Linked DNA regions of Homo sapiens. The protein of the gene in region 2 interacts with the protein of the main gene of each other region in a biochemical or structural test. Each region holds a gene or a part of one and is shown on either strand. Other genes may lie near its edges. The genes, in order: MYLK and PRKG2.

What was found.
Region 1: of the proteins of PRKG2 (region 2) and MYLK, one has a biochemical effect on the other in vitro, tested with the Homo sapiens proteins (one study listed by BioGRID).

The regions. Positions count from the first base shown.
Region 1 is NC_000003.12:123,879,629-123,895,284, forward strand, and holds the start of MYLK (myosin light chain kinase, smooth muscle), read right to left. Parts: upstream 4,705-15,656; 5' UTR 4,578-4,704; intron 1-4,577. UniProt on the Homo sapiens protein: Calcium/calmodulin-dependent myosin light chain kinase implicated in smooth muscle contraction via phosphorylation of myosin light chains (MLC). Also regulates actin-myosin interaction through a non-kinase activity.
Region 2 is NC_000004.12:81,207,225-81,223,314, forward strand, and holds the start of PRKG2 (cGMP-dependent protein kinase 2), read right to left. Parts: upstream 7,999-16,090; 5' UTR 7,712-7,998; exon of another isoform or gene 7,044-7,711; intron 1-7,043. UniProt on the Homo sapiens protein: Crucial regulator of intestinal secretion and bone growth. Phosphorylates and activates CFTR on the plasma membrane. Plays a key role in intestinal secretion by regulating cGMP-dependent translocation of CFTR in jejunum.

The DNA.
Region 1 (15,656 bases), on a different chromosome or scaffold from region 2:
GTTGTTGTTGTTTGTTTGTTTCTTGAGACGGGGTCTCACACTGTCGCCTGGGCTGGAGTGCAGTGGCGCCATCTTGGCTCACTGCAAGCTCCGCCTCCTGGGTTCATGCCATTCTCCTGCCTCAGCCTCCCGAGTTGCTGGGACTACAGCCGAGTAGCTGGGACTACAGACGCCCGCCACCACACCTGGCTAATTTTTTGTATTTTTAGTAGAGACGGGGTTTCACCGCGTTAGCCAGGATGGTCTCAATCTCCTCACCTTGTGATCCACCTGCCTTGGCCTCCCAAAGTGCTGGGATTACAGGCGTGAGCCACCGTGCCTGGCCCACATTTACCTTTGTTTTATAAGCCTCTACAGAGCTCAATAGAAAGTAGACATCATTAGTGTCTGCTGGTTGATTTACAAGTCATTATATAGACCTGGAGAACACTGCCCGGTATATATAATAAAAGCTATTCTTTGTTTTGTGCCTATTTATATTCCTATATTCATTTAATTTTTATAACCGCCCTCATTGTCAGATGACAAAACTCAAGTCAGCTCACAGAGGTTAAAACCCATGCCCAAGAACACCCAGCCAGTAAGTGAATGGGATGGAACTGAACCCAAGTTTAACACCAAAGATCACATTCTGCCTGGCTGCCTCCTCCTGCCAGAAACCTGAATGAGACCTACTATACATCAGAAATCCTCATCTCTGAAAACAAGAAAGGTAAACAGCATCCTCAACTATAAAAGCCCCAAGTTGCAGGTGTTCGGTTCCCCCAAAGATTATGAGAAATAACCCATAAGGTCCTGGATTAACAAATTAGCATCAGATCTGAGCGCCCAGAGCCAAGGGAAAAAAAATCAAGAAGCAGGTCTGAAAGAAAAGGAAATCCTCTCCTCATCCCTTTTCTTTTGTCTCCAAAGGGGCTTTCTGTCTCCAGAGGGCTCTGCACTGAAGACCCAGGGAAGGAGAGGAGCAGAGGGTGGAAGGGGGGCAAGGAAGTACCAACAGAGGGGGGATGGGGACAACGTGGGAAATCTAAGAAGCTGGATCTACACAAAAATTTCCACAGCTCCCTAGTGGGGTGCCCATTCACCCTCAGACACTGAAGTACAGTGAGCAGGAGGGCAGGGAAAAGAAGGTGGTGGGAGCATCTGGAAACACAGCCTTACCTTCCAGCCCATGAGGCAGCAACTGTTGCTGGCTCTCCTCCTGCCCCAGCTGACTGGGCTGGCTGTCAGTAAATTTCATGGGGGCTGCAGCCCTCACACACCAGGTGCATGCAACAAGGAGGAGGGATGCACCTGTTGGCCCGCAGTGCAAATACGGAGGTCCACCCACCTTGAGTTTGTGAGGGGAATGCATTTGCTCAACCTGTTGGCATCAAACGAATGGAAAAGTGTGCAGCCAAAACTCAAGGAAGAATAAAGAGAATCCATCTGCAGAATGGTGCAGGTGGGAGAGGGGCGTGGCTTGTATGGGCACTGCTTCCCCGCACAACCATGTCTGCCTGCTTGTAAGGTAGGAGGCTGGGGGAGCACAGGGAAGAGATAGAAGTCACATGGCATAGGAGCTCATCACAGTGACATCGTTCTGTCCCACTCTGGCTCACTGCTGGACGGTTCCTTGATTCTGAGCACTCAGGCCACCCAATAGACCCTGCTCAGGCCTAAGCATCCACATGGACATTTTCCATGCAAATGGCCCTGCCTCATGTCCTCTGCATGCACCCTCTGCTGGCCAAGTTGAGCGAGGACATTGTCTTTTGTTGGGAAAGGATACTTTTTAAGTGTTGTTTCTAAATTTTACTACATTTGCTGAAAAGACAGGACAGGAAGCTTTTAAGAATGAACAATCTCCCAGCCTGTGTGGGTTGGTTTGAGCTGTGAGAGGTGCAGCTGGGCTTCCAAGTAGGCTTATATTTCCAGACTCCCAAGTATTGTTCTCAGAAAGATACTAAATAAGACACCCCATACTCATGGGACACTGTACCCATGTCCCCAAGCAAGGCTGCATTCTGAAACCCCCACCCCACCTTATGAACTTCCTAAAAGACAGACAAGCCAACTAGTTGTGTTTCAAACTCTAGGCTCATCTTATATTTTGAGGATAAAAGCAAGGGGTCATTCTCAAAGACACTGAGTATATGGTGACCCCAGCGCATTCACAATCTATGCCTCTGAGACCAGCAAAGATCTCCCTAGCCAGAGACCCAGAACCTTTCCCCACCCTTGGAACTCAAAGGCCTCTCCCCTCTGCACCATCTGGGTCACCTCCTTCTCTGACAAGCCTTCTCAGCAGATTACCCCCGCCACCTGCCAGCCAGGAGCCCCTCCTCTGCAGTGACTGTAGCTGTCTGTCTACCATTTTCAGGCAGCAGGTGGGGCCACCTGGCCTTACCAGTTAGCCTAGGAATGTTCCAAGGCCTAGTCTGCTCTGCATATGTTTTCTAAGATCTGGCCCCTGGGGAAGCAGCCCCTGATGAAGGGGTGAGCAAACCTCACACAAACAGCAACTACTCTGGCTGGGTGCAGTGGCTCATGCCTGTAACCCAGCACTTTGGGAGGCAGAGGTGGGCGATCACTTGAGCCCATTAGACTAGTATGGACAACATGGTAGGACCCCATCTCTACAAAAAATCCAAAAAACTAGCCAGGTGTGGTGGCACACACCTGTAGTCCCTGCTACTCAGGAGGCTGAGGTGGAGGATTCCTTGAGCCTGGTAGGTCAAGGTTGCAGTGAGCTGAGATCACGCCACTGTACTCCAGCCTGGGCAACAGAGCCAGACCCTGTCTCAAAATAAAAAATAAAAATAAAAATAAGACAAGGAAACATCTACAATGCTGCAGCTACCCTCCTCCTCAGCTAGCCAGTTATTACACAAAAGAAACTGAACATGGGAGATAAACCAGCATAAATGCTTCCCCACTGTGGGGTGGTTCTCCAAGCTCATGCTTAGCTGCAAATGAGGTCCAGCATCCTTTGTATCATCAGTGAACAATGAGACAGACCTGCACATCTTGGCAAAAAAAGCTCTTGTGCATGTCCCCAGAGTACCCGCTACCCAATCCAGCATCCAGAGTCCAACCACTCCGGACCCAGGACCAACTGCTCAGGTTCCTCCCAGACCCAAGGCTCCTGGCCCACTGAGAGTGGGAGAAAAAGGGGTAACCTCACTCTGGGCAGGAAGGAAAATTCCATGCTGCCCTAGAGCACTGTGGTGCCAGCAGCATCATCCTCCACAGTCCCACAGTGTGCAGGCGGGGAAGAGACTAAGAGAATCACGGAAGAGAGAAGGAGGTCAAGAATTTAAGAGAAAAGAAAACAGTTCTATTAGAACCCTAAATGCCTTGTAGGAACCTAGTAAAGTCACCAGATGCACCTACACTTCTCCCAGAGACTTGCATTGTTGATTCCTGATTCTTTGAAGTGTGGGCGGGGTTCCCCAAATGGTCCTCCTAAGCCCACCATCTGGAAATAATTTATTGATAAGTGCATTTTGACAAAAAGTATTCCATTCAGGTGGAGAAGAACACAGCCTCTCTTGGAAGGGGGATGCAGCTCCAGGGCAGGCTCTCAAAGGCTGTGGGGTGGGCGGGTCATTGCATATACTCTGGTCTTTGCACTTGGGGAGAGGAGGGATGGTAAAAACCAACGGCCTGAGGTCTGGCATCATGCCCACTGCCCAGGTGTTTCCCTACACCCACCCAGCTCCCTGAATCACAACAGCTAATTTTACTCCCTCTAGACTCTAGTAGAGCTGGGTCTTCTCCTTCTGGCTACGAAATAGAAAGTGCCCCGCACCCCAACACACACACCCCAATCTAAAAAAAATATATATCCTTGAAACCATTTCCCCATCAGCCCATCTTCACATCTGCAATGCCACTCCTAGAAATTCAGTCCTTTGGGTCTTGAAGGGTTTTAGTTCCATAAGTTCCAGGGAGGGGTCTACCTCAACCATTGACAACTCACATCTCCTGAGAAGTTTATCCAAAACTTTCCAACTGCAATCATCGGCGAACAAGGTCCCTCAACAATGGGACCCCAGTTAACGCGAAGGAGGCAGAGCGAGGTAAGGAGCTTAAATGAGGAGTATGGAGTAGGAACAAGTCTGCAAAGCCCGCGCCCCAGCTTCGCCTGGGATGGCCAGGTCTGGCACTCGCGGGCCGCCTTCCCCGCCCTACCTTCCCGGAATCACATTTGGGCTGGAAGGACCTTCACGTGGCACCCCCTTCCCAGAGGCCGTCACCGAGTCCTCTAGCGAGGGTCTGGGAGCTGGGAGAAGGGTCCGCTTCTCCTCCGCCCCTCAAATCAAAGGCACCCCCTTCGGATGATTCCTAGAAAGGCAATCGCATCAGTGTCCCCAAGCACTTCATCTCCCCAAAAGAAAACTCGTGCAGCCTGGCGTCACTGGGGTCGTCTCCTTACGCCCCTGACTCCTCGCCGCACCCCGGGGCCCCTCTCCATTAGGGGAGTCGGGAGGCACAGACGGTGGGGGTCCCAGCCCCCACCCAGAACTCCCACCCTCGGAGCCTTGACTTCCAGGGCCCGCGCCTGGACAAAAGCATGGGGCGGGCTCACTCACCCGCGCGGCGAAGGCGGCCCGGGAGCCGGGGCACCGGCGCTCGGCGGGGCGCCCCGGCCGCAGGCGCACAGCGCGGGCTCCGAGCTCGCTCAGCGCCCTGCTGCCGACCGGGCGGCGCGGGGAGCCCGCGAGGCGCGTCCGGGACTGGGCAGGGCGGGGCGGGGCGGGGCGGGGCGGGGGTGAGCGAACCGGCGAGAGAGAGAGCAAGTGGGAGAGCGGAGAGCGGACGCGCGCTGAGGAGAGCGAGTGAGAGCGCGGCGCTACGGGGTCAGGACTCAAACCACCCGCTCCAGCCCCCATGCACTGATTTGCATGACATTTGCATAGCGCTCGGGGAGTGGACCTGCTGCCCTTCCCGCCACGCCCACCCGCCTTCTGCCTCGGAGTCCGGAGCGGAGAATCCGCAGCCAAACCTAGCGCCAGACCCGGGCCCCCCTCGCACTTATCCTGCACCGCCCCAGTTAACTCCTCGCAGGCGGCGGTCAGCGGGCTGGTACTGTCTTGGTGCGTGTCTTAGTCCTACACTGGGAGACCTAGGCCTTAGGTCGGGGTCTGATGCTAGCTTCGTGAGCGTGCATGAGACACTGGCTGCCTCTGGGCCTCAGTTTTCTAATCTGTAAAATGAAGATGTCAGCGGAACCATGGGGCTAAAGTTTTAGTGCTGGAAGGTTGTCTATGTAGTTTTTTTCAGACATCCTCCAGTGGTGCAACTCAGCCCCATGGTTCCTCTGACATCCTCCCTTTGTGTGTGTTAAGAATCTCTCATTGGTTTGGAAGATACCTACAAAGTTCTTTAAATTAAAAAAGGGGAAAGGGGAGGGGGGGGAGGGGAGGGGGAGGAGGTGTTTCTGGTTTTGGCTTGCTTTATATTTAGTTTGCACCCAATATGAAATATTTTATAGCTTCTGATCTCTTCACTTGGACCTTCTTTTGTTTTTTTTAAAAAAACTGTTTACTGCAGGTTAAGGAGTGTTTTTAAAAATTTTTTAATTGTAAAATAAAACATAAATACAGAAAACCACAAAAAACAAATATATAGATATATAGACTAGTGAATTATTATAAAGGGAACATCCTTGTAATCACCACCTGGATCAAGAAATAGAACTCTGCCAGCCACCCCAGGAGCCTCTCCATGTGCCCTACCTCAATGACAACCCCCTTTCTCCCTCCTCCCAAAAGTAACCACTAACCTGACTTTCATGTAGTCACTTCTGCTGCTTTTGTTTTTCTTGGTATCTTCCAAGGGTGCACCTTACCCCTCCCCCCACTCTTTTTTTTTTTAATTTGATTTGCCTTTTCAGTCTTTTCCTTACAATTATTTGTTAAATAACTTAAGCCCTTGATCTGTGAGGTTTTCCAGAGTCTGGGGGTTGCACATTCATGAGGCAATTCAGCATGTTTCTCTGTCCTCTGTATTGACAGCAAGTTGGCAGCTGATCCAGGGTCTTCCTCAGACTGAAGTTTGATGTCTTTTGTAAGATTATAGATGGTTGTGTGTTCTTTTCTTCAAGAGGTACATGATCATGATGTCTGGTGTTTGCTCTTTTTTGAGGTTAACAGCCGTCGATGCTCAATTCCTAGATTCATTAATTAATTGAAGTTTGCAAAATCATGGTATTCTAATAATTTTGTTTTCATTTATTAGTTCATAAGTGGATAAGGAGATGCTTCCTCTCATCTACTATTTGATTACCCTGAGATAGGAAAGGCACGATGAATACCTGCTTTTTTTTAAAAAAATTACCCAGTTTTCAAGTTAAGGAATTGATTCTCTGTCATTCTTAGATTTCTTTAATATCATTATAAATTCATGAATTTAAATATATTTGATAGGTTTCCATCTACGATATTAGAGCTCAAATTGTCCCATCTTTGGCCAGTAGGAGCTTCTTCAATATGGCTCCTGGCTCCTTTTGATAAGATTCTAGTAGTCTTTTTTTTTTTCTCTCTCTCTCTCTCTCACTAGTGTGCAAAGAGCTTCAAAGACCCTAGAAGTCTTTGATAGCTTCCTTGCTATCTGATATGACAAGATGTTCCAGGCACATCTGTACATTTGCTGCCTCAAACCTGGAATCAGCCATTTCTCCAAGAAGCTCTAGTTTTTTTGTTTTTTCTTTCCTTCCTTCCTTCTCTCTCTCTTTTTCTTTCTTTTTTTCTTTCTTTCTTTCCTTCTTTCCTTCTTTCCTTCTTTCTTTCTTTCTTTTCTTTCAGATGGAGTCTCACTCTGTCACCAGGCTAGAGTGCAGTGGCACGATCTCGGCTCACTGCAACCTCCACATCCCTGGTTCAAGGGATTCTCCTGCCTCAGCCTCCTGAATAGGTGGGATTATAGGCACGTGCCACCACACCCAGCTAATTTTTGTATTTTTAGTAGAGACGGGGTTTCATCATGTTGGCCAGGATAGTCTCAATCTCTTGACCTCGTGATCTGCCCACCTCGGCCTCCCAAAGTGCTGGGATTACAGGCATGAGCCACCCCGCCTGGCCAGAAGCTCTAGTTTCTTTTGTTGAAATTTTAAGATAACAATATGAGCACTAGGAGTATTCATTGTTACTAGGTTGGTAACTGTTTCTAGGCCTTTTCAATAGACAGAGCTACTAAAGAATACTTCATTTTTTTATATTCTAGAGAAATATTATTCTTCATAATATTTTCATCAGTTTATATTATTTCCAATTTAATTTCAGGACTGTAGTTTTTACTTAACATATATTACATTAGGACCTCTTTTCTTTCATGTAGAGAATTCTGGTTCTCAAGGACAAAAGGGAGGATGAAATTAGAATATCCCAATTTACTAATTTGCTTTAGTTTGCATTAAACATATAATAATAATCTCAGAATAACAATATTAATACTACCATCATCAGTTTTGATTCTTGAAAACAGTTTTTTTTGCATATGCTATCCATCTTTTATAGTTATACTCTATCTAAATTATCAGCTTCTATAGCCATCTATACCATAATCTTCCTATTTAACCCTAATTTAGTCTTAATTTTACAGTTCTACAATTCTAATCCTAATTAAAGTTCAAATATATATTTAATGCTTACCATTAGTTCCTTATGTTTATGTATCTTTAGTCATTTTGGTTGTCTGAAAGCTTGTCCTCTACTAGATTCCTTAGGAAGGGCTCATGGAAAGAATATGCTCTGAGTTCTTGCATGTTGCTTACAGTTTGTTCATGCCATTTTACTTGAAGGTCAATTTTGTTGGATTCAAACTACTTGGTGTCTTGGTCCAGCTGGGTTGCTATAACAACAACAACAAAAAAAAAAAACACAAAATAAGTGGCTTATAAACAAGAAACATTATTTCTTATAGTTCTGGGGGCTGGGAAGTCCAAGATCAAGGCTCCAACAGATTCAGTATCTGTTGAGAGCCCTCTTTCTGGTTTGTAGACGGCACCTTCTCACTTTGCCTAGATGCCCAAATAACTTTATCTTTTTCTTTCAAATCCAGTAATTTTATTAGAATGTTTGTTGGTCATTCTAGTTTGAAAGTAAACAGTGTGTATTTCTTTCAAAATGTGGTTTCAAATACATATATTTTGTTAATTTCAGGAAAATTTTCTTCAATTAAAGTCTTAAATATTTGTTCTGTTTTGGATTGCTTTAGACTGCTTCTCTGGAGACTTCTATTATCTGCATATTGAACCTTTTTTGTCTATCTTCAACATTTGTCACTTTCCCTTAAATCTTTTTAATTTCTTTCTTCATTTGTTTTTAAGTTTATAAATTTCCCTCCTTTTTACCTTATTTTCTTTTAAGTTTTTATTAGTTATATTTATGTGTTCTTGTGTTCCTTATAGGTCAATCTTTATTTCTCAAATGCTTTTTAAAATGTTTAATTCCAAAAAAAAATAAAAAATAAAACGTTTAATTCTTCTGTGAGTTCTGTTCTAATTTCTGAGTTTCTCTAATTCTGATGTATGTTGTTCTTTCATGTTTCATGTCACTCAGTGTGTATTAGCTTTTCTAGGACATTATAGCTTTAATTTTTTTGAGAATATCTTTCTGGAGGTTATTATGATCTTTATTCACTTTGTTGTAGTAGCTATATGAGAGTTGACCTTAGTATTTTTTTTGTTGATCATTTTTACATGAATTTTGTTTTCTTGAACTTTTAAAAGGAGATTTGGTCCAGACAGTTTTTCAAACTTCACAAAGCTTTCCCGTTTGTTGTTTCTGAGTAGTGTCAAAAAATATATATGGTGGCTGGACTTCTAAGATTTCCTGGCTCTGTTTCCCTCACTCACTTTTATCTGGCTCTTCTTTTTCTTTCAACTTGCATTAGTCAGTTTTCACACTGCTATAAAGAGCTACCTGAAACTGGGTAATTTATGAAGAAAAGAGATTTAATTGACTGACAGTTCCTCAGGCTTAACAGGAAGGATGACTAGGGAGCCTCAGGAAACTTACAATCATAGCAGAAGGTGAAGGGGAACCAAGTGCTTTCTTCATATAGTGGCAGGAGAAAGAGAGAATGCAGGGGGAAGTGCCATACACTTTTAAACCATCAGATCTTGTGAGAACTCACTTATTATCATGAGAACAGCAAGGGGGAAATCCACCCCCATGATCCATGATTTAATCACTTCTCACCAGGCCCCTCCTCCAATTCAACATGAGATTTGGGTGGGGACACAAATCCAAATCATATAATTCCACCCCAACCCCTCTCAAATTTCATGTCCTGCTCACATTGCAAAATATAATTATCCCTTCTCAATAGTCTCCCAATCTTAACTCATTTCAACATTAACTCAAAAATCCACAGTCTAAAGTCTCATCTGAGACAAATAAATCCCTTCTGCCTATGAACCTGTAAAATCAAAAACAACTTAGTTACTTCCAAGATGCAAGGGGGATATAGGCATTGGGTAAATGCTACCATTCCAAAAGGGAGAAATTGCAGCCAGGTGCAGTGGCTCACACCTGAAATCCCAACAATTTGGGAGGCCAAGGCAGGTGGATTACTTGAGGTCAGGAGTTCAAGACCAGCCTGGGCAACATGGTGAAACCCTGTCTCTACTAAAAATATTTTTAAAATTAGCCAAGTGTGGTGGCACGTGCCTGTAATCCCAGCTACTTGGAGGCTGAGGCAGGAGGATTGCTTGCACTGAGGAGGTAGAGGCTGCAGTGAGCCAAGATCGTGATACTGCACTCCTGTCTGGGCAACAGAGGGAGACACAATCTCAAATAAAAAAAAGGGAGAAATTGACCAAAACAAAGGGGCTACAGGCCTCATGCAAATCCAAAACTCAGCAGGGAAGTCATTAAATCTTAAAGCTCTAAAATAATCTCTTTTGAATTCATGTCTCACATCCAGGGCATGCTGATGCAAGGATGCTCTTCCAAGTCCTTGGGCAGCTCCACCCCAGTGGGTCTGCAGGGTATAGCCCCTGTGGCTACTTTCACAGGCTGGCATTGAGTGCCTGCAGCTTTTCCAGGTGCATGGTGCAAACTGTTGGTGGATCTACCATTCTGGGGTCTGAAGGATGGTGGCCTGCTTCTCACAGCTCCACTAGGCAGTGCCACAGTGGGGACTCTGTGTGGGGGCTCCAACTCCACATTTCCCCTCCACACAAACCTAGTGGAGGTTCTCCATAAGGCCTCTGCCCCTGCAGCAGACTTCTGCCTGGACACCCAGGCATTTCCATACATCCTCTGAAATCTAGGTGGAGGTTCATGAATTAGTCCATTTTCAAGCTGTTGATAAAGATATACGTGAGACTGGGAAGAAAAAGAAGTTTAATGGACTTACAATTTCATATGGCTGGGGAGGCCTCACAATCATGGTGGAAGTCAAGGCAGAGCAAGTCACATCTTACATGAATGGCAGCAGGCAGAGGGAGGGCTTGTGCAGAGAAACTCCCATTTTTAAAACCATCAGATCTTGTGAGACCCATTCACTATCATGAGAACAGCACAGGAAGGACCCATCCCCATGACTCAATCATCTCCCACCAGGTCCCTCCCACAACACATGGGAATTATGGGAGCTACAAGATGAGATTTGGGTGGGGACACAGAGCCAAACCATATTATTCTGCCCCGGCATCTCCCAAATTTCATGTCCTCACATTTCAAAACCAATCATGCCTTCCCAATAGCCCGCCAAAATCTTAAATCATTTCAGCATTAACTCAAAAGTCCACAGTCCAAAGTCTCATCTGAGACAAGGCAAGTCCCTTCCACCTATAAACCTGTAAAATCAAAAGCAAGTTAGTTACTTCCTAGATACAATGAAAGTACAGGCATTGGGTAAATATGGCCATTCTAAATGGGAGAATTTGGCCAAAATAAAGGGACTATAGGCCCCATGCAAGTCCGAAATCCAGCAGGGCAGTCAAATCTTAAAGCTCCAAAATGACCTCCTTTGACTCCATGTCTCACAACCAGGTCACACTGATGTGAGAGGTGGGTTCTCATGGTCTTGGGCAGCTCTGCCCCTGTGGCTTTGCAGGATGTAGCCTCCCTCTTGGCTGCTTTCATGGGCTGGCATTGAGTGTCTGTGGTTTTCCAGGCGAATGGTGCAAGCTGTCAGTGGATCTACCATTCTGGGGTCTGGAGGACAGTGGCCCTCTTCTCACAGCTCCACTAGGCAGTACCCTAGTAGGGACTCTGTGTCGGGGCTCTGACCTCACATTTCCCTCCCACACTGCCCTAGCAGAGGTTCTCCATGACTTCCCTGCCCCTGTAGCAAACTTCCACCTGGGCATCCAGGCATTTCCATACTTCCTCTGAAATCTAAGTGGAGGTTTCCAAACCTAAATTTTTTACTTCTGTGTACCTGCAGGCTCAACACCATGTGGAAGCTGCCAAGGCTTGGGGCTTGCACCCTCTGAAGCCACAGCCCAAGCTCTATATTGGCCCCTTTTAGCCAGCTGGAACAGCTGGGACACAGGGCACCTAATCCCCAGGCTGCACACAGCACAGGGATCCTGGGCCTGGTCCATGAAACCACGTTTTCCTCCTAGGCCTCCTGGCCTGTGATGGGAGGGGCTGCCACAAAGGTCTCTGACATGGCCTGGAGACATTTTCCCCATTGTCATGGGGATTAACATTTGGCTCCTGTTACTTATGCAAATTTCTGCAGCAGGCTTGAATTTCTCCTCAGAAAATGGGATTTTCTCTTCTATTGCATTATCAGGCTGCAAATTTTCTGAACTTTTATGCTCTGCCTCCCTTATAAAACTGAATGCCTTTAACAGCACCTAAGTCACCTCTTGAATGCTTTGCTGTTTAGAAATTTCTTCTGCCAGATACCCTAAATCATCTATCTCAAGTTCAAAGTTCCACAAATCTCTAGGGCAGTGGTAAAATGCTGTCAGTCTCTTTGCTAAAACATAACAAGAGTCACATTTGCTCCAGTTCCCAACAAGTTCCTCATCTCCATCTGAGACCACCTCAGCCCGGATTTCATTGTCCATGTTATTATCAGCATTTTTGTCAAAGCCATTCAACAAGTTTCTAGGGAGTTCCAAACTTTCCCACATTTTCCTGTCTTCTTCTGAGCCCTCCAAACTGTTCCAACCTCTGCCTGTTACCCAGTTCCAAAGTTGCTTCCACATTTTCAGGTATCTTTTCAGCAGCACCCCACTCTGCTGTTACCAATTTACTGTATTAGTCCATTTTCACAATGCTAATATGCTAATAAAGACATACCCAAGACTGGGAAGAAAGAGAGGTTTAATGGACTTACAGTTACTCATGGCTGGGGAGGCCTCACAATCATGATGGAAGGCAAGGAGGAGCAAGTCACATCTTACATGGATGGCCGCAGGCAAAGAGAGAGCTTGTGCAGGGAAACTCCCATTTTTAAAACCATCAGGTCTCGTGAGACCCACTAACTATCTTGAGAAAAGCACAGGAAAGACCCGCCCCCATGATTCAATCATCTCCCACTGGGTCCCTCCCACAACACATGAGAATTATGGAAGCTATAAGATGAGATTTGGGTGAGGACACAGAGCCAAACCATATCAGTTCCCAAAAACTCAACTCTTGCCTTCTGTGCACCCCCAGGCCCAACACAACATGGAAGCTGCCAAGGCTTGTGGGTTGCACCCTCTGAAGCAATTGTCTGAGCTGTATCTTGGCCCCTTTTAGTCACAGCTGAAGCTGGAGCAGCTGGGACTCAGGGTGCCATGTCCTGAGGCTGCACAGAGCAGCCAGGCCCTAGGCCTGGCCCATGAAACATTTTTCCCTCCTAGGCCTCCAGGCCTGTGATAGGAGGGGCTACAGTGAAGGTCTCTGAACTGCCCTGGAGACATTTTCTCCATTGTCTTCAATATTAATATTTGGCTCCACTCATGCAAATTTCTGCAGCCAGCTTGACTTTCTGTCCAGAAAATGGGTTTTTCTTTACTACCGTATGGTCAGGCTGCAAATTTTCTAAACTTTCACAAGAACAGCACAGGGGAAATCCACCCCCATGATCCAATCACCTTCCACCAGCCCCCTCCTCCAATTCGACATGAGATTTGGGTGGGGACACAAATTCAAACCATTTCACAACTCTTCCCTGTCATGTTAATTTTTTCACTTTTTTATTGTAGCAAAATATACATAACCCAAAATTTATAATTTTAACCATTTTTTTTTTGAGACGGAGTCTTGCTCTGTTGCCCAGGCTGGAGTGCAATGGTGTCATCTCGGCTCATTGTAACCTCTGCCTCCCAGTTTCAAGTGATTCTCCTGCCTCAGCCTCCCAAGTACCTGGGACTATAGGTGCGTGCCACAACACCTAGCTAATTTTTTGTATTTTTAGTAGAGATGGGGTTTCACCACATTACTCAGGATGGTCTCAATCACCTGACCTTGTGATCCACCCACCTTGGCCTCCCAAAGACCTGGTATTACAGGCATGAGCCACCGTGCCCTGCCAATTTTAACCATTTTTAAAGTATACAATTTAGTAGCATTAAGTACATTCACCATATTGTGTAACTATCTATTTCCAGACTTTTGTCATAATCCCAAACAGAAACTTTGTACACATTAAGCAACATCTCCCATTTCCTCTTCCCTCCAACACCTGGTAACCTTTATTCTACTTTCTGTCTCTATCATTTTGCCTATTCTAGATACCCCATATAAGTGTAATCATATAATATTTATCCTTTTGTGTCTGTCTTATTTCATTCAGTGTAATGTTTTCAAGGTTTATCCAGGTAGAATATATCAAAACTTCATTTTTTTATAGCTGAGTAATATTCATATCTAGCATTATTTTGTTTATCCATTCTTCTGTTAATGGACATTTGGGTTGTTTTTACATTTTGGCTATTATGAATAATGCATAATATGAATATTGGCATATGAGTATTGTTTGAATGACCATTTTCAATTCTTTTAAAAATAAAACATACTTAGGAATGAAATTACTGAGTCATATGTCTATTTTTTTTAACTTTTTTGAGAAACCACCGAACTGTTTCGATGGCTGTACCATTTTACATTCTCACCAGCAATGCACAAGGGTTCCAGTTTTTCCATATTCTCATTAATATATATTATTTTCTATTTTTTGATAGTAATAAACTTAGCAGGTATAAAGTGGTAGTCCATTGTAATTTTGATTTGCATTACCCTAATGACTAAAATTGTGGAGCATTGTTTTTGAGTATCTTCTTTGGAGAAACGTCTATCGAATTCCTTTTCCCATTTTAAAATTGGGTTGTTTTGTTATTAAATTGCAGGGTTCTTTACATATTCTGACTATTAATCCTTTTCTAGATATATGATTAGCAAATATTTTCTCTCATTCTGTAGGTTGCTTTGTTGTCTATGTTATTGATGTCATACCAAAGAAACTATTGCTAAATCCAATATTTCATAAAAATTTTCCCTATGTTTTCTTCTAAGAGTTTTACAGTTTAGCTCTTAAATTTAGGTCTTTCATCCATCTTGAGTTAATGTTTGTACATGGTATAAGGTAAGGGTCCAACTTTATTCTTCTGCATGTGGATATCCAGTTTTCCACCACCATTTGTTGAAAAGACTGTTGTTTACCCATTGATTTCAAACCTCGTTGAAAATAGGCTGACCATATAATGCAAGGGTTTATTTCTAGACTCTCCATTCCATTGGCCCATATGTCTGTGCTTATGCCAGTACCACACTGTTTTGATTACTGTAGCTTTGTAGTAAGTTTTGAAATCAGGAAGTATGAAACCTTCAATTTTGTTGTTCTTTTTCAAGATTGTTTTAGCTATTGGGGGCTCTCTGAGGTTCCATATGGGTTTTAGAATGGGTTCCTTTTATTTCTGCAATAACATTGGGATTTTAATAGGGATTGCATTGAATCTGTAGATCACTTTGGGTAATACTGTCATCATAACACTATTGTCTTCCAATGCATAAACACAGAATGTCTTTCATTTATTTATGTCTTCTTTAATTTCTTTTTAGCAATAAGTTTTCACTGTACAAGTCTTTCACCTCCTTGGTTAAATTTATTCCTAAGTATTTTATCCTTTTTGATGCTATTGAAAATTGAATTGTTTTCTTAATTTCTTTTTCAGATTATTTATTGCTAACATACTTAAATATAACTGATTTTTGTAAGTTGGTTTGTATCATTTCCTATTATGTACATTTTATTCCACTTCTAAAAATTTCTCCTTAGTTTGGAGTCTCGTTCTAAAAAGGAGCCTGAGCTGGTCAGTTTCAAGAGTTAATGGGGGCTAGATTGTACCAGTTCCCCTAAACTCTGGCTAGTGACTAGAGACAAAGAGGATCTGCACAAATACCTGAAGAAGACCATGTCCAAACACACAAACCTAGCACATTATAATGTCTGGTGTGTCAAGACAAAATAAATTTCCTTCAGTGAGAAATTGTCTGTTTCCTTAGGCCTCTTGAAACAATGTAAGTTAGCCCCCACTGCCCCAAAGTGACATTAGTTGTAGAAAATTTTCCTTGGCTTGGTGGGGAGGGGGTGCCCATTTATTTTTACTACCTTTGCAAAAAGTTTATTCTGCAAGTCTGGATCTCCCATCTGTCTATGCACATCCGCTGCACTTCCTTCCTGTCTCTGAATCCTTCCCTGGCTTGGCCCCCTTC
Region 2 (16,090 bases):
AATTAATGTGTACACACGTTTTTAACACGCATCAGTGACCCATTTTCTAGACAGCCTTCTTGGTTCATGGAGAAGTATTCTTAGGTCAGTAGAGAAAGAAGGGAGATGTGATGGTAGGAGGAAAAGGATTTGCCTTATAAATAAAAAAGCACGCATAAAAACTTTCAAATCTAATATTAAACTAACAACTAACTCATTTTTGTTCATGGAAAAATTGTTTACTAAGACCAAAGTATCATATACCATATCAGAGGCATATCCCATCATGGATTTGCAGTCAAATTTGACACAGAAAACAGTTTTAGCATTACAAATATGAAAAGGCTTAGAATCATTTTTGCTCTATGGATGGTATTCAAAAAATTCTGTACCAATCCAATAATTTTACAAACTTGAAGCACAGTTAGGTAGAGGATGTTAAATTCTCCCAAAACACCAATTATCCTCTGGTTTAGTTGGAAGCTATGTAAATCTTTCAAGCTATTTAGAATTTCAAAGAGGGGTAAAATGAGAGTAACTAACTCATCTTTCAAGTCACTAATTTAAGATACGTAAGTAAGTTACTAAATGGCTCAATACTAGTCTGATTTCTTACTTAGTTCATCCATTTAAATATTGCTGTCCCTGAAGCCAAGGTTTCAAGTCTCTGGCTTCATAAAACCTAATTAGATTCACTCTGTTTCCTGTATCAGTCACTAAGATAAGCTATTTCTCAAATATGTATTGCTAGCCACAAGGAGAAATGAACCATAGGATGTTGCTCCATCAGTCTGGCAACTGCAGGTTATTAAAATCATTCTTACAGTCAGAGGGCAGCACATGATGCAATAAGAAATGAGTCTGGAGATAAAGATCAGAATTTAACATGAGCAATAGAGTCAGGCCAATTAGGGTTATAAAACAATCTGCTCTTTCTCAACCTTCTATATATTCCTAAAAATCTTTGAGTCTTACTTTCTCATCTACAAAAGGGAATATATTTATATCCATCTCGTAGGGTTACTATGATTATTACGTTTGTAAAGTACCCCATATGATGCCTGGCAGGTATCAGACATGAAGTAGGTAAGCAGCTCTTATTATAGTATGTAACTAGAAACAGGCAATTAATGTCTAGGTGTGAAGAAAACCCAGAGAGGATCATTTCTGGGTAGGACAGAAGTCTAGTAAACTGGATGTCTTCCACAAGAGTCTTTTGTGGGTTTTTGTTTGTTTGTTTGTGACAGGGTCTCATTCTGCAGCCATGAGATGCAGTGGCCAGTGGTGCAATCACTATAACCTGAAACTCCTGGGCTCAAGTGACCCTCTTGCCTCAGCCTTCAGAGTAGCTAGGACTACAGAGGCACACCACCATGCTTGACTGATTTTTTTTATTTTCTTGTTGAGATGGGGTCTTGCACTATGTTGCTCAAACTGGTCTCGAAATCCTGGGCTCAAACCACCCTTCTGCCTCAGCCTCTCAAATGACAAAACTCTTTAAAGATGCACATTATTCCTTTGGGAGGTGGTGGCCGGGAGTAAGGGACTCTTACTTTGCCTGGATTCTATCTTCCATTGAGAAAAGAAGTCATTTGGAAACAAACAGCCTGGAAAACAAGTTCCCCACCAAAAGATGGAGACAAAAAAAGAATTATGAATGACACGGAGCCAGTTCATAACTACAAGGACTTAATAATTGAAGCTCTGTAATTCCCTCATGTAGCCCCTATTTATTTTCACACACTGCAATGAAATGCTTAAAACATGGAGGCCCACCTAATTATCTTTGAAGGCAACCAAAAACCATAGTTCACTCTGGAGGCAATACTCTTCTGCAGTTAGGTATAGGAGACAGCAATCGAATGAGTAGTGGCATTTCGCTAGAAGAGAGGAAACTACATAAGACTACAAATTATTATATTAATGTAATCGCCATTTAGAAATTGCTGTCCACCAAGGGTAATTAGAAGAGACATAAGAAAAGCAAAAGTGACTGTGAAGGCGCTTGCAGGCGGATTAACACCTGGCAGTCAATGTGGGAGGAATTAAGCTTTGTTTTCTGTTTTTCCTCCAGCCCTATAGCAGTTTGAAACCAGAATCTTGGCTCTGGTCTAGATAATATCTATTTCTCTCTCTACCCATCTGGAGTCTGTTATAAATATACACAGACAAACACACACACACATATATAGATGTGTGTGTATAGCTACATGTATATCTGTCAATATGGGAGATGGTATGGTGCTGGCTAAGGTTATGGATCCAGAGTCCCAGTGGAAGCACTTTCATTTAGTGGTCTATATTCCCTCAGGCAAGATACTTGAGTGTCAATAATGGAAGAAAAAGATAGAAACATAGAGAGATAGACAAAACAATGCTGCCTGTCATTTACAGTTTTTAGAGGATTAAATGAGATAAATCATGATGAAAATTTAGCACAGGTATTAGCATATAGTATTTGTTTAAGAAATATTAAATATTACTATTATTATTACATTTAACATTATTTATCCAACAAGAGAATTTATCTTAGAGGAAAAACTTATTGAACTGAAAACATGTACTAAACCAACACAATATTGAAGGAGAACTGATACTGTCCAACTTTAAGGCTTACTAATAAAGTAACGGTAATCAATATAGTGTTGTATTGGTGAAAAAATAGACAAGTAGATCAATGGAACAGAACAGAGATCCCAGAGGTAGACCTAAACAGTACAGTCAACTGATCCAAAGATCAAAGAATACAAAAGAGAGCAAAGACAAGTCAATGGAGAAAGGATAGTCTTTTTAACAAATTGTACCGGAACAACTAGGCATTAATTTTTAAAAAAATAGAATCTAGATACCGATCTTATAACTTTCACAAAAATTAGCTTAAAATGGATCACAGACCTAGATGTAAGAAACAAAATTACAAAACCCCCAAAAGACAACATAGGAGAAATTCTAGGTGATCTTGGGTTTTGTGATGACTTTTTAGATAAAAGACCAAAAAGCCTGATTCATAGACAGAAAAAATTGACAATTTTGACTTGATTAAAATTTAAAACTTCTGCTCTGAAAAAAAAAAGAAGAAAATGAAAAAACAAGCCATAGACTGAGAGAACGTACTTCTAAAACATATGTCTAATTCTGAACACTCAATAATAGGAAAACAAACAACCCAACTGAAAAATGGGCAAAAGATCTGAGCAGACACCTCACCAAACAAGGCACTCAGTTGATAAATAAGCATATAAAAAGAAACTCAACATCATAGGTCATTAGGGAATCTCAAATTTAAACAATAATGAGATACCACTACACACCTATTACAATGACTACAATCCAAGACACTGACAACACCAAATGCTGGTGTGAATATGGAGCAACAGGAATGCTCATTCATTGCTAGTGGGAATACAAAATGATATAGTTACATTAGGGGACAATTTGGCAGCTTCTTACAAAGCTAAATATACTCTTACTCTACAAGCCAGCAGTCATGCTTCTTGGTATCTACCCAACTGATATGAGACATATGTTTTCACTAAAATCTGCACATGAATGTTTATGGCAGCTTTGTTTATAATTCCCAAAACCTGAAAGCAACCAAGAAGTCCCTCAGTAGGTAAACGGATAAACAAACTGTGGCACATCCATATAATAGAATATTATTCAATAATAAAAGCAATATCAGCCAACAAGAAGACATGAAGGAACTTTAAATGCATATTGCTGGGTGAAAGAAGCCAATCTGAAAAGCCTATACATTGTATGATTTCAACTGTATAGCATTCTGGAAAAGACAAAACTTGGAGACCATAGAAAGATCAGTGGTTGCCAGGAGCTTGGGGAAAGACAGAAAGGAATAGGTGGGAAAGAACATTTATAGGGCAGTAAAACTATTCAATATGATACTGTAATGATATACACATTTCATTATATATTTGTCAAAACCCATGGAATATACAAAAGGAATGAACCCCAATGTAAACTATGGACTTTAATAATAATGCATCAATATTTGTTCCATCACTTGTAACACATGTACCATACTGATGAAAGATGTTAAGAGCAGGGGAAAGTGCTAAGAGGTGGGTATATAGGAACTCTGTGCTTTTTACTCAATTTTTCTATAAACCTAAAATTTCTACAATATAGAAAGTCTATTAGTTTAAGAAAAGAATTATGTATTAAGAAATGAATGCAAGAAAGCTGATAGCACAGTCAAGGGACAGGCTGAAATGTGTGATGGATGGAAGGAGAGTAATGAATAATGAAACTGAAAAAGTAAGATACTGAAAAATTTCCTACGCCACATTATGGTATCTGAATCTTAAGATACACTAAGTTCTCTAGTTATGTGGTCAGATTTGTCCTTTAGGAAAATAATATTCTCATAAATAAGGAATGGAGTAAAAAGAGCTTAGAGGAAGTAAGACAAGGGAAGATACTATTGCACCAATCCAAATAGGAGGTGATAGTTTAAGGATTAAAGCTCAGAGTCCCAACACTATTTAATGACTTGAACTTCTTGAACTCAAGAAAAAAATTGACCATCTCCGTGGTAGCCAGAGAGAAAAACATTGCCATATGAGATTCAATAAAAGTTACAGCTATATGTAACACTGCAATGTCCTTCCCTTCAATAAATCATGGAAACCAGAATTGATTTTTTAATGATAATGGGCAGTTCAGCTGGAAATCAGAGGAGTGAATTATACAGACTTCTACAGATAATATTCTAGGTGGATAGGAAACTGATACATTTGATGTTACCATTAGCTTGTCTCTCTAAAGTTCCTTTAGAAAATAATTGAATATATAAATCCCTGATTCTTCTCCCTGAAGCAAACCACACAGAGTTGTTGTCCTTGTGAGAAACAGCTCACTTTCACATTAATGCCACAATTAAAAGCATCTGTCCATCCAACCTTGTGACTGTTGACCCGGGGCTCAGTTTGGAATCTACTGCTTGTTTTCTCTGTCCACAGCATCCTGGCTGGAGAAAAACTTTCTCTTGACAGGAAATCATATGACCTTGTTGTACCAAAGTTGCAGCTACTCTGGAGGTTGGTTATCTCTTTAAAGTGCCTCCCTCCCACCCCCCCAGCAGAATGTTCGCGGTGAATTTTATGAATGCCACTATCCTATATTTGACTGCCAAATTCAGCTATTTGGGGGGCTACATTAACAGATAAACAAGCAAACACACAGAAATGTAGGTCTGTAAGTCTAGGTCAGAAGATTATAGCTGACAGAATTTTTGAGTGGTGGCAAGAAGAAAGACGATGAGGATTTGAAAGTTTATACTGTGGCAACTGGGTAAAAGGTAATGTCATTGACCAAAATGAGGAGCAGATTTGAGGGATAGGACAGTGAGTTTAATTTTGGATATACTCAGTTTGAAGCACCAGTGGAAACTTTAAGTAGAGAAGTTTAGTGAGCAGTAAGAAATGAGGGACAAGAAAAGCTAAAGAAAGAGGAAAGCTGAAAATATTAAGCAGTTATTGATACATAAATAGAGGCTGAAGTTGATGAATTGGAGGCAAGTGCCCAGGATATTAGCGATGAGGAGAGGAGAGTGTCTAGGTCTATATGAGGTTGGAAAGAAAACTGTAAGATATGGTAAGAAGGTACTGCTTTGGTTAAAGTGAGAGAGGATGTGAAGAGATTAATATTAGAAGAGGGTGAGTAGGAGGAACACTGCAGGATAGCATCTCTAATGTAGTAATTAAATGGATGTGCATGGGAGGGCAATCAAAATGATTTCAATGTTTTGATCTTAGGAGGCTTGAAGGAAAGTATTACTATCTACTCTTCATTCATTCAGTCATTCAAAAAGAACACATAGGGCACCGTGTATGGGCTAGACACTGTGGCACTGACAGAAGTCAGGAGAATGAGCATGCTTTGAAAAGACAGTAATGAGTCTGGATTTACATATATTGAGTTTGAGATGCTTGTGGGTCATCATGATGCAAATGTCTAGCAGGTAGAAGCAAAAAAGAAAACTCAAGGGAAGAGATTGCTCCATAGAAGACTTGAAGTACCATTTGTAGATGAGATCACTAAGGGAGGTAAGAAAGGAATGTCTCTATTGTTACCTATGAACATATAGGTAATATCTGTGGATATTATTTGTGGGAGAAGAGGAGGAGAAGCAAACCACAAAGGAGAAGGAACACGTGTACCAATAAGAGATTTAGGAGAAGCATCAGAAAGGCCATGCAGATAAGATCCTTAAGAGGTGAGCAGGCTGTACCTCACATCCCACAGGCCTGTCACAGCAAATGAGATCAGAGAGAAAAGTGCTGAATCTGATTTGTCAAAGAGTGGGGATAGACACTCAACTACAAGGGACCATGGAAAGAGCTGACACTAAGAGTAGAGCCTGCAAGACGATATCATGATTCATGTGAGGGATTTTTAAAATAATGAAAATTTGAAAATGTCTGTAGCTCCAGGATAATGAAGCACAGGAGATATGAAAAACGAAAACATGGGAGAAGAAGAGATAATTCATAGGAAAAATAGCCTAGAGGAAGCAAGACAATAAGGGATCACAGGACTTGGGCAACAGCCAGGCAACATATGCCTTCACTGTGAGGTGAATTCTCATTAGCCTCACTTGTAATGACTTCATAGAACTGGAGTTAAGGATTTCACGTAAAAGAGAAAGATCCCTGGGCATCATCTTTTCAGGTCGTTTATTCTTAGTCATACAGCGTTCCAACGGAGAGGATGCACTCTAATTCTCCATAGAGAATTCTCTACCATATTAGCTCATACCCTCCTGTGCAAAACTAAACAGGAGTACTGAAAACAGCTAGTGTATGTTATGTGGGATGATCGCCTTCTTCATGAGTTAAATAGAAACTTGCAAAGAAAAGAGACAATTTCTAAGAAACTCTAAATATGGGGGTGTGGTGGGGTGGGGGCAGGTGTATGTTGCTCTCTTCCTTAAAAAAAAAAAAAAAAAGAAGGAGAAGAAGAAGAAGGAAAAAGCCCCTGGGAACTTGGGGAACAAGATGAAGATCAGGAAATCAAGGCATTTGTCCCAGCGTCACCCTTCCTACCTACTAATTCTGCATGCGTTGCTTTTATTGTCAGCTCTGGCCTCAGCTGCTTCGTAGTTGCACCGTAGTTCTTCTCAGAACTGAACCTATTTCTTTTTTTCTCATCCCCAAAGTGGCTGGTTTCTGGGCTTTGTTTGCTCTTGTTTCTTCATCACCGAGAAATACAGAAATATGAAAGCGCCTCACGGTGCCCAGAGTGACAAAAGGACACCCACACAAGTTTACCAGGACTCCTAAAAGTCCTTGCCTGAGGACTGTCCCCTAGCAACTACCCAGAGCTCGACGAAGCAAAGCCGGGAGCGCAAGCCCTGACAGCACCGCCAAGCCCCTAGCTCGGAGCAACAGCCTCCACCGCTTCTCCTCGCTAAACCTAGAGAACCCTGAGGACTCCCCACTGGGGCTGAGCCCCTCCCGCCCTCAACAGAACCTCTAAACACAAGTAGCCTTTCCCTGCCTCCAGGAGCTCACGAAACGCTGCCACACCGAGCGAATGCAACGCGTACACACGTCCACACTCGAACAGCACAAGCAAGAGACCGGCTGGGTGTGGAATAGAGGCGCACATCGCGCAACGCATTCACAGCATGCACACGCGCGCACCCCGACCCCGTCCCTCCCCGCGCGCCCTCACACCCCGGCGCCCAAGACCCCCGGCCCACGAACCTCACCAGACAGCCGGGTAACTTTCCAGGTGCGCAGCTTGTCACCTCGGCGCGGCCGCCCCTGCGTCTCAGCGTCCTCTCCCACGCCGCCCTCCCCAGCCGCCTGCGGCGCCGGAGCCCAGCGCAGGTCAGCTCAGCCAGCCCCGCCGTGCACACGGTGCGCAGCGTGGGCCCGGGGCTGCCGGCTCAGTCGCTCCGGCTACGTGTGAGCCGGGGGCGCGGGTTAGCGCGATGCGGGCAGGAGCTGCGGCGGCGTCGGTGCTGCCGCCTGGCTCCGCGGCGGGGGCCGGTGCAGAGGAGACACGCAGGGAGGGAGGGAAGAGAGGAGGGAAGGAGGAGGGAGGGGGTCAGCCGGGGCTACTGCCTGGATAGTTGGGCGCCGGCTTCCCTAAAGGTGGGGTCACCCGCGCCCGCACGCACACTAGCCCGAACCTTTACTCCCGACACAGCCGCAGTCTGCACTTTATACCCCATACCCTCCATAGTGAGGCAACTTAAGTAGGGCGATAACATCGTGGTTGTAAGCATTTTTGTTCATGTTATTATTTCTATTTCAAGTGTGTGGGACGAGGGGAGAGGAAAGTTCAGGGAGGTGTTCATTTTTTCCTTCCCCTCCCTTTCCTCCATCCTTCCAGTCTGTTTTCACTGCAGGCTCTCTCCACTTCGCCTTCCCTCCCAGAGCTCAAACAGGCGCACGTACCCTGGACATGCCCTCCTCTGTCACACCAATGCCTTTCTACGAAGACATGTGACCCCGAAGCAGCTCGTCGACGCGCCCCTCCCGGACTCTGGGGCCATAACTTACATCTAGTTTGCCAGTTCACGTGATGCTGGGGGCAGGGGTTGAATCGAGTTTCGAGGGACAGAGATTATACCTTCCGAATCTGCAGGTCTTTGGGAAGGGAGCTTTCTTGATCACCCAAGAAGATAATGCTCTCTCGTCACCTTTTGAGTACATTTTTTTTTCCTGAAGGGTGCAATATGGTTTCCTAAATATATATGTACACCCCACCGCATTATTTGCTGTGCTCTGGAGTTGTGAGATCTCCATGTGGCTTTTTCCCTTTCCTTCTGCCCCCAGAGGAATTTCACCAGCAAATTCACGGAGGACAAGGGCAGTTTCTGTGTTGAGAGATGGAAAGTATAGTGAGGGTCTATTCCTCACTGTGCATCTAGAGAATGTTACAACCAACTCTCTTGGGTTTTTAAACCACATGGTGGCAGTGGGGCTCATGTAACATTTGTATACACTGTTACATACATAAACTTATATTAAAAATGAGGCCCATGTAAAATATGTTGAATGAGACCATTAAGTTTCAGAGGAGGAGGAATATAGTCCTGTTTGTTTTTGTGCTAACTGGAGGAAAATCGCGAAAGTACACAAAGTACCTTTTCATGAAGCTATCCCAGAGTCTGTACATTTTATAAAGACCTCAAAAAAAAAAAAATTAGAGGAGAAAGGAGTGAGGAAGAATTCCACAAGAAAAGAGAAAATAAGTAATTGTATGTCACTGTAATAATGGACTTTTAAGTTGATGGGCTGAATTTTTATTAGCGATTTAATGACAAAAAGGAGAAAAACAGATTTTCAAAGTCTTCACTTTAAAAAAAAATTTCAGATTCAGGGGTACAAGTGCAGTCGCATTACACGGACATAACACATAGTGGTGAGGTCTGGGCTTTTAGCGCACCTATTACCCTAATAATGTGCACTGTACCTAATAAGTTGTAATTCCTACCTCACCCACCTCCCACCCTCCCACCTATTGGAGTCCCCAGTGTCTGTTATTCCATTCTGGATACTCATGCCTGCCCATTGTTTAGCTGCCACTTATAAGAGATTCTGCAGTTTTTGACTTTGTTTCTGAGTAATTTCACTTAGGATAATGGCCTCTAGTTCCATCCATGTTGCTGCAAAAGATATGATTTCATTGTTTTTGTGGCTGGGTAGTATTCCATTGTGTGTGTGTGTGTGTGTGTGTGTGTGTGTGTGTGTGTGTAGTACCCCTGAATCAAAAAAAAATTTTCCCAGTTTTTCAGGTGATAGGTACACAGTGTATGTGTGTGTATACCACCATAGTGTGTGTGTATATATTTTGTATATATATATATATATATATATGTGTATATATATAATATAAAACCACATTTATAAATCCAATCACCCCTTAATGGACACGTAGGTTGACTCCATGATTTTGCTATTGTGAATAATGCTGCAAAGTCCTTACATTTCATTGAGTCCTGGGCTTTTTTAAACAATGGGTTGCTAATTAATGGATTATAAAATTGATGTACTGGGTCAAAGCCAGCATTTTTAAAATGATACCAAATAGAATAAAAAATAGCAGAGTATGCACGCACACTGGGTCAACTGGGTCATATGTACTTTCTTACCGTTCATTGAGGTAAAAGCTTGAAAGCTGTCGATGCAGTGCAGGCTGTTGCCCAGGGTCACCCAGCTAGGAAGAGTTTGAGGGGGAACCTAAGTTCCCTCCCAGCAATCCTATGCTCTGTCAAATCTACAACTCTACCATGCTGAACAAGGAAACGGAGGAAGAGAAGGAAAGTGACCACTTTTTGAGCTTTTAATTCAGTCTTTCAACAAATGTGCTTTCAGCAGCTCCTGCATCTCAGGCCCAGTGCTAAATACTTAGAATTCAATGGTGAACAAAATTAACTTGTGATCTCTGCCAACTTAGAGTGTACAATCCAGTGAGAGAAACAGACATTAAATAAGTAAACACAAAAGTAAGCATATGTGGGAGAAATACTGTGAAGGAAAATGAGAGAAAAAAATATGGGGTTATAATTTAGATGTGGGAGGCTGCAATTAATAATTAACCCAATTTAGAATGGCTTAAATTATAAGGAAACTTACTGTTTCACAAGGCAAGAAGTTCCAAGGTCAGGAGGCTCTAGTTGGTGAATTCAGGAACACAGTTGTGTCTGGGAAGGCCCTGGCCTGTTCCCGTTATTCCCCCTGCCATTCCCAGTATGGCAGCTTTGTCCCCTGGGGCTGCTCCACCCATGGCCCCAGGATGACTGGAACAACTCCATTTATTATGGGCAATCCCAACAGTGCCCAAAGGTCACAGAGATTCTCTTTTCCAGAGTCGGGAAATCGTTCTTGGAAGCTTCCAGGAGACTTCTCACCTGTCATTAATCCAAACTAAGCATGTGCTCACACCTAAATGCTGGAGGTGGAGGGGAGAATCACCATTCCCAGCCTCTTAGGCTCTGCAGGACTGGTTCCTAACTCTTCCCGATTGCATTCTTTGAGAAGTGCATACCCGAATAAAAAGGAGAGGGTGGCAATGGATGCTGGGTAGGCAATCTAGAGTCTGCTACAGGGGCTCAAGAATAATGTCTCTCTGGAAAAAAAAAAAGTGGAGGGCATTTAAACTTAAGATGAGTAAGAGTGAGACAGGGAGTGAGGAGGAAGCACCTTCAGGCTGAAGGAATCTGGCCTGTGATGTTGGACTCTGTGTCATGAGTTAAAGGCTTCCATGTAATTTCTCATTTACTCCTTTGACCTGAGGAGGTAAGCACACCTGAGGAAGGAAACTCAGAGAGTTAAGTAACTTTGATCAAATTCACAGAGCTAATAAGTTGCAGAGCCAGTCTATATAATTCCAGACCCTAAAATCTTGACTTCTTCTACCTGTACAAAGACAACGAGAAATTAAAATCCACTGGCCTTTCTTTGCCATTGACTGAAGAACACAGGCCCCTCAGAGGCCCGTCTGCAATGTTAATCTAAGCACATGGGCGATGTGGGACATACTCATGACTAATCCTCCTCCTACTAGGTAAGCCTCTGCTCCACTAGGTCTCCTGGTCTCTGCTAAGCACTGTCACCAGAGCACCAGAGTTCTCACATTGTCAAAGTTCAGAGGTAGCCTATGGAAATGGGGATGATAAAAGGCCTGTCTTCCCTTGTTTTATACACAGAAAAGTCCCCAAGCAGCCCAAGTGTTTCACAGAAACCTCCCGGTTTTGCCCACTTTCTGTTTCTTGCAGGGACCTGCATCCAAGAGGCTGAGCTAGGAAGAGATCCAGTAATGTTTCCATACTTAATTCAGACTCCCAAGCCCCTGGATGACTCAATTTGAGTTCAGGATCATCCCATGCCAATCTTATTTTCTTGGGATAAATTTCCACACAGGAGGCTCTATAGTTACCTTTGCACACAGACTCCTGTCAGGGCACCCCATCAGATCAGCCTTGTGCTCATAATCTTTAATTCCAGCTTGGAGCCCTCCAAGGCCCAACTGAGGTCCCTTCTATGGATCAGCAGAAAATCTCCTGGGGACATAAGAGGGACAAAACTCCCATGCTGGTGATTCACACTCCATTTTCTCACCATGTCTTTGGTTTTCTTTCCTTCCCTCTTTTATTCTTTCATTTATCTTCAGGCTTCCTTATCCTACCACACTAACTCCATGAGCAGCCATTTCAGTTGCTAAGGCTAGAACCTCAAGTCATAGTGCCCTCCTTTCTGATTGGTTTTGCCAAACCCTAGCCAAGAGAAAATCCCATTTGCCTTTGATGCTTTTGTTGTCCAGGTTCCAGCATCACTCAATATGGTTATAAAACTGGGCCAATTGGATCCACCCAAATTTTCATGTTATCTAAGCTCCGTGCAGCCCACAATCCCTTTATTTACCTCAATACCTCTTCCATGAAGTCTTGCTGACCATGAAGGATAGTGCTTCTCTCCCATGACCCCACAGCAACATGGTGCTCCAAGTTACAAATCCTTGTTAACTTGCCAATCTCCCTTATTAGACTTCAGAGCAGGGACTTTGTTGTATCAATGCTTATATCTCCAGAACATACCCAGCTCAAGTCTCTTCATTATTTAAAAAATAATTTAAAATTTTCACTCTTTAATCTACTATCTTCTTTAAAAAAAAAAAAACTGTCTATTAAGATACTAGAGACTTGAAAGTGAACCCCATATGTGGTGCCTCTACTTCCTCTGTGGAAGCTCATCAATAATGTCATACAATCTTCCAGGCCTAGCATTGGAAGCATCAGTCTTCTTTCTACTCCTCTTTCCAAAGGGACAGTAGCCTGTCATTTACCAATGCCTTCCCAGTGATCCCGGTTGGGGATGAGAGTGTTATGGGCATTAACTCCTGGTACATCTGGGCTATTTCCAAGCTCCTCCAAGCAGCAGCCGAGCCTTCGTGTGATCCCAATCTAGAATTGAACAGTCTCTTGCCCATGCTTTCTCTGAATGTCCCCCATCATCTGTTTCCACTCCCACCCAGTCCAAATTTTCCCAGGATTCTGGCTTTAGCCCTTTCTTCTCTCTCTCTTTCTCTCTCTCTTTTTCTCTCTCTCTCTCTTTCTCTCTCTCTCCCTTTCTCTCTCTCTCTGTCTCTCATCTCATAGCTTCACTGATTATTTCTAGGTGTCCACCCCTTTTCCAGAACTTGCCAGCACTGTACTTTGTCTCAGCCCTTCTTGTGGTATTTATCACTTTCTACTTTGTATTATTGGTGCCTAACTACATTTATCTCTCCTACAGAGCTGTAAACTCTTGGAGGGCATGGTTCACATTTGATTATCTTTGCTGTATCTCTCCCAGTACCACACACAGCAGGTCCAATCCTAGAGTTGATAGGAAGCCATGATTTGTTATCCAGAAGAATTTTGCTTATGTTTCTGAAGTTCCGTAGAAAGAATTTGGAACATGTTCTTGATTTTCCTTCTGGAATAGACAATTGTTTAAAATAATGATATAAATTAGAAATTAATAGTCTGTCCAATTGACAATCAAGTAATAGTAAAATTTACTTTAAAAGTACAAAATATAAATAAATTTGGTCTTCTGGTTTTATCTATACATAATAAGTTTCAGCCCAGGGTACACTGACTTTCCTAAATAGTGATTTTTTTTTCTAGGTATAGGTAGTCATCAAATAATATAGCCAGTGTACACTAACTATGCACTAGGTTCACAGTATTTAGCATCCCACCATCCTGTGCTATTTCAGAGTCAACCTGGACTACCCATCCAACACTTAACGTCTCAACTCGTTAGTCTTCCCATATCTAATAGCTCCATCTCAGCTTCAGCCATCACTCCCATAGTCACACCTGGAAATCCCTCTAAAATCACCAATTCTGTGAGTGCATATGCACCCCAGATCTGCACAGTCCTGCCTGCCTCCAGGGCTTCAGCCCTTTGCCTTGCTTCTCAGCCAGAGTGGCCCAAGCAATGGCTGGTGTTGTCCCCATGGTCCTAAAGCCCAGTTTAATGCTGTCACTGACCTCGGCCTCCCTTGGATCCAGGGCCAGACCAGCATGACCTTCATAACACCCACTGTAGAGGGAGCATCAGCAGCTCCAGGCCCCTGGGCTGACCTGACTGAACCCACAGAAACTCTGGCTTCCCTCACTGCTGCCTGGAGGGGCCCAAAACACAACCCAGAAATATAGTGGAATTAATGACCTGTGGAGCCGACTTTGACCACTGAGAGACAGGAGCCAGGATGAAGACAACAAATAAATTGTTCACCCTTCCTGCCCACCCAGGAGCTGTTCAAAGATGCAATGGTTCTGTATTTCTGGCTACTCTGGCATGACTCAGCAACCAGCTTTGTTTTCTAGAGAAGCTGTAGACAAATTGGTAATGCACAACTTTGAATCTGCTTTTTCTCCTTCTCTCTTTTATTTCTGTGTTTCTGCTCATTCTTGCTTCCCTAGGATAATATTCTAAATAGAGTGTCACATGTGAGCTTTACCTTAGGTTCTGTTTTCTAGAGAAACCAAACTAAAATAAGGCATTATACTCTGTGACAACAACTTTCCATCCTTCAAGCTTAATTGTTCAATTACATTCTCTTCATGTGTTTCTGGCCCTATAGTGACCTCTAGTTCCTTGATCCTCTATTTACTTCCTCACTGTCTTTACTATGCTCCTTACACAGTTGGGTATGGAATGCATTATCTCATGCTACTGGTACCTTGCCCCAGCCTTACGTCTTACAATAGCCAGGAGAAGCCCCCATTAGGAAGGAATTCCACTTCTTCCTCTTGTACTTAAACAATAAAAACTAGTGAAACAAGGTAGATATAGGTCCTGTTCTCATAAACTTAAATTCTGGGTCAATAGTAGGAGATTCGACTGGTAAAGCCATTCTAGAGAACCATCTGGAATGATTTACTCAAATTAAGAATACATACAGCCCATTAGCAATTCCACTTCTGAGTATACCATATATCCTAGAGGAATTCCCATATGAGTCCATAAGGGAGCATGTACTAGGATGTTTATTGCAACTTCCTTTTTATTGTTATGATTAGAGGCTAGAGGGCACCTGGGTATGCATCTCTGGGAGGGTAAATAGGTAAGTTCCTATGGCTATATGCCATAGGATGTTTATTGCAACTTCCTTTTTATTGTTATGATTAGAGGCTAGAGGGCACCTGGGTATGCATCTCTGGGAGGGTAAATAGGTAAGTTCCTATGGCTATATGCCATAGGATGTTAAACAATACTTAGAAACAAGTTAGATGTTCCCAAAGCAAAGTGATATACCTTAAAAATAAGAGTATCTAGTAGAAAATAGAAGTACAATGAGATATATATAGATATAAAACACAATATTCTTTGCATAAATTAAAGATAATATGCACAAAATACATTATTCATTTTGCATAAACACATAAAATAAAAAGATACAAAAAACACATTAGAACGTTAGGGAGTAGAGTATTTTAATAAAAGAAATAACAGAAGAGAAAAGGAAAAACTAGAAAAGGGAATGGAAAACTACTTCTGAGAAGTGGTCTTCAGAAGACCTCTCTTAAGAGGGAGCATTTGAGTGAAGACCAAATGATGAAACAAAGCCTACCACAAGATGATCTAGGAAGGAATATGCCAGACAGAAGGAAAAGCATGTGCAATGGCCAACAGGCCTATATTAGTTGGTTCTCACACTGCTATAAATAACTTCCTTGAGACTGGGTAATTTATAAATAAGAGTTTTAATTGACTCGCAGTTCCATATGGCTAGGGAGGCCTCAGGAAACTTATAATCATTTCAGAAGGTGAAGGGGAAGCAAACTTGGACCTTTTCACATGGTGGCAGGAGACAGATTGGGAGGAGCAAAGAGGGAAAAGCCCCTTATAAAATCATAGGATCTCATGAGAACTCACTCACTGTCATGAGAATAGAATGGAGGAAACGCCCTCATGATCCAATCACCTCCAACCAGGTCTCTCCCTAGACATGTGGGGATTACCAGGATTATAATTCACGATGAGATTTGGGTGGGGACACAGCCAAACTATATCGAGGCCAAAAGAACTTGGTGAGTTTCAGGGCTGGAACCTAAGAACATGGAGGAGTGTGATACCATGTA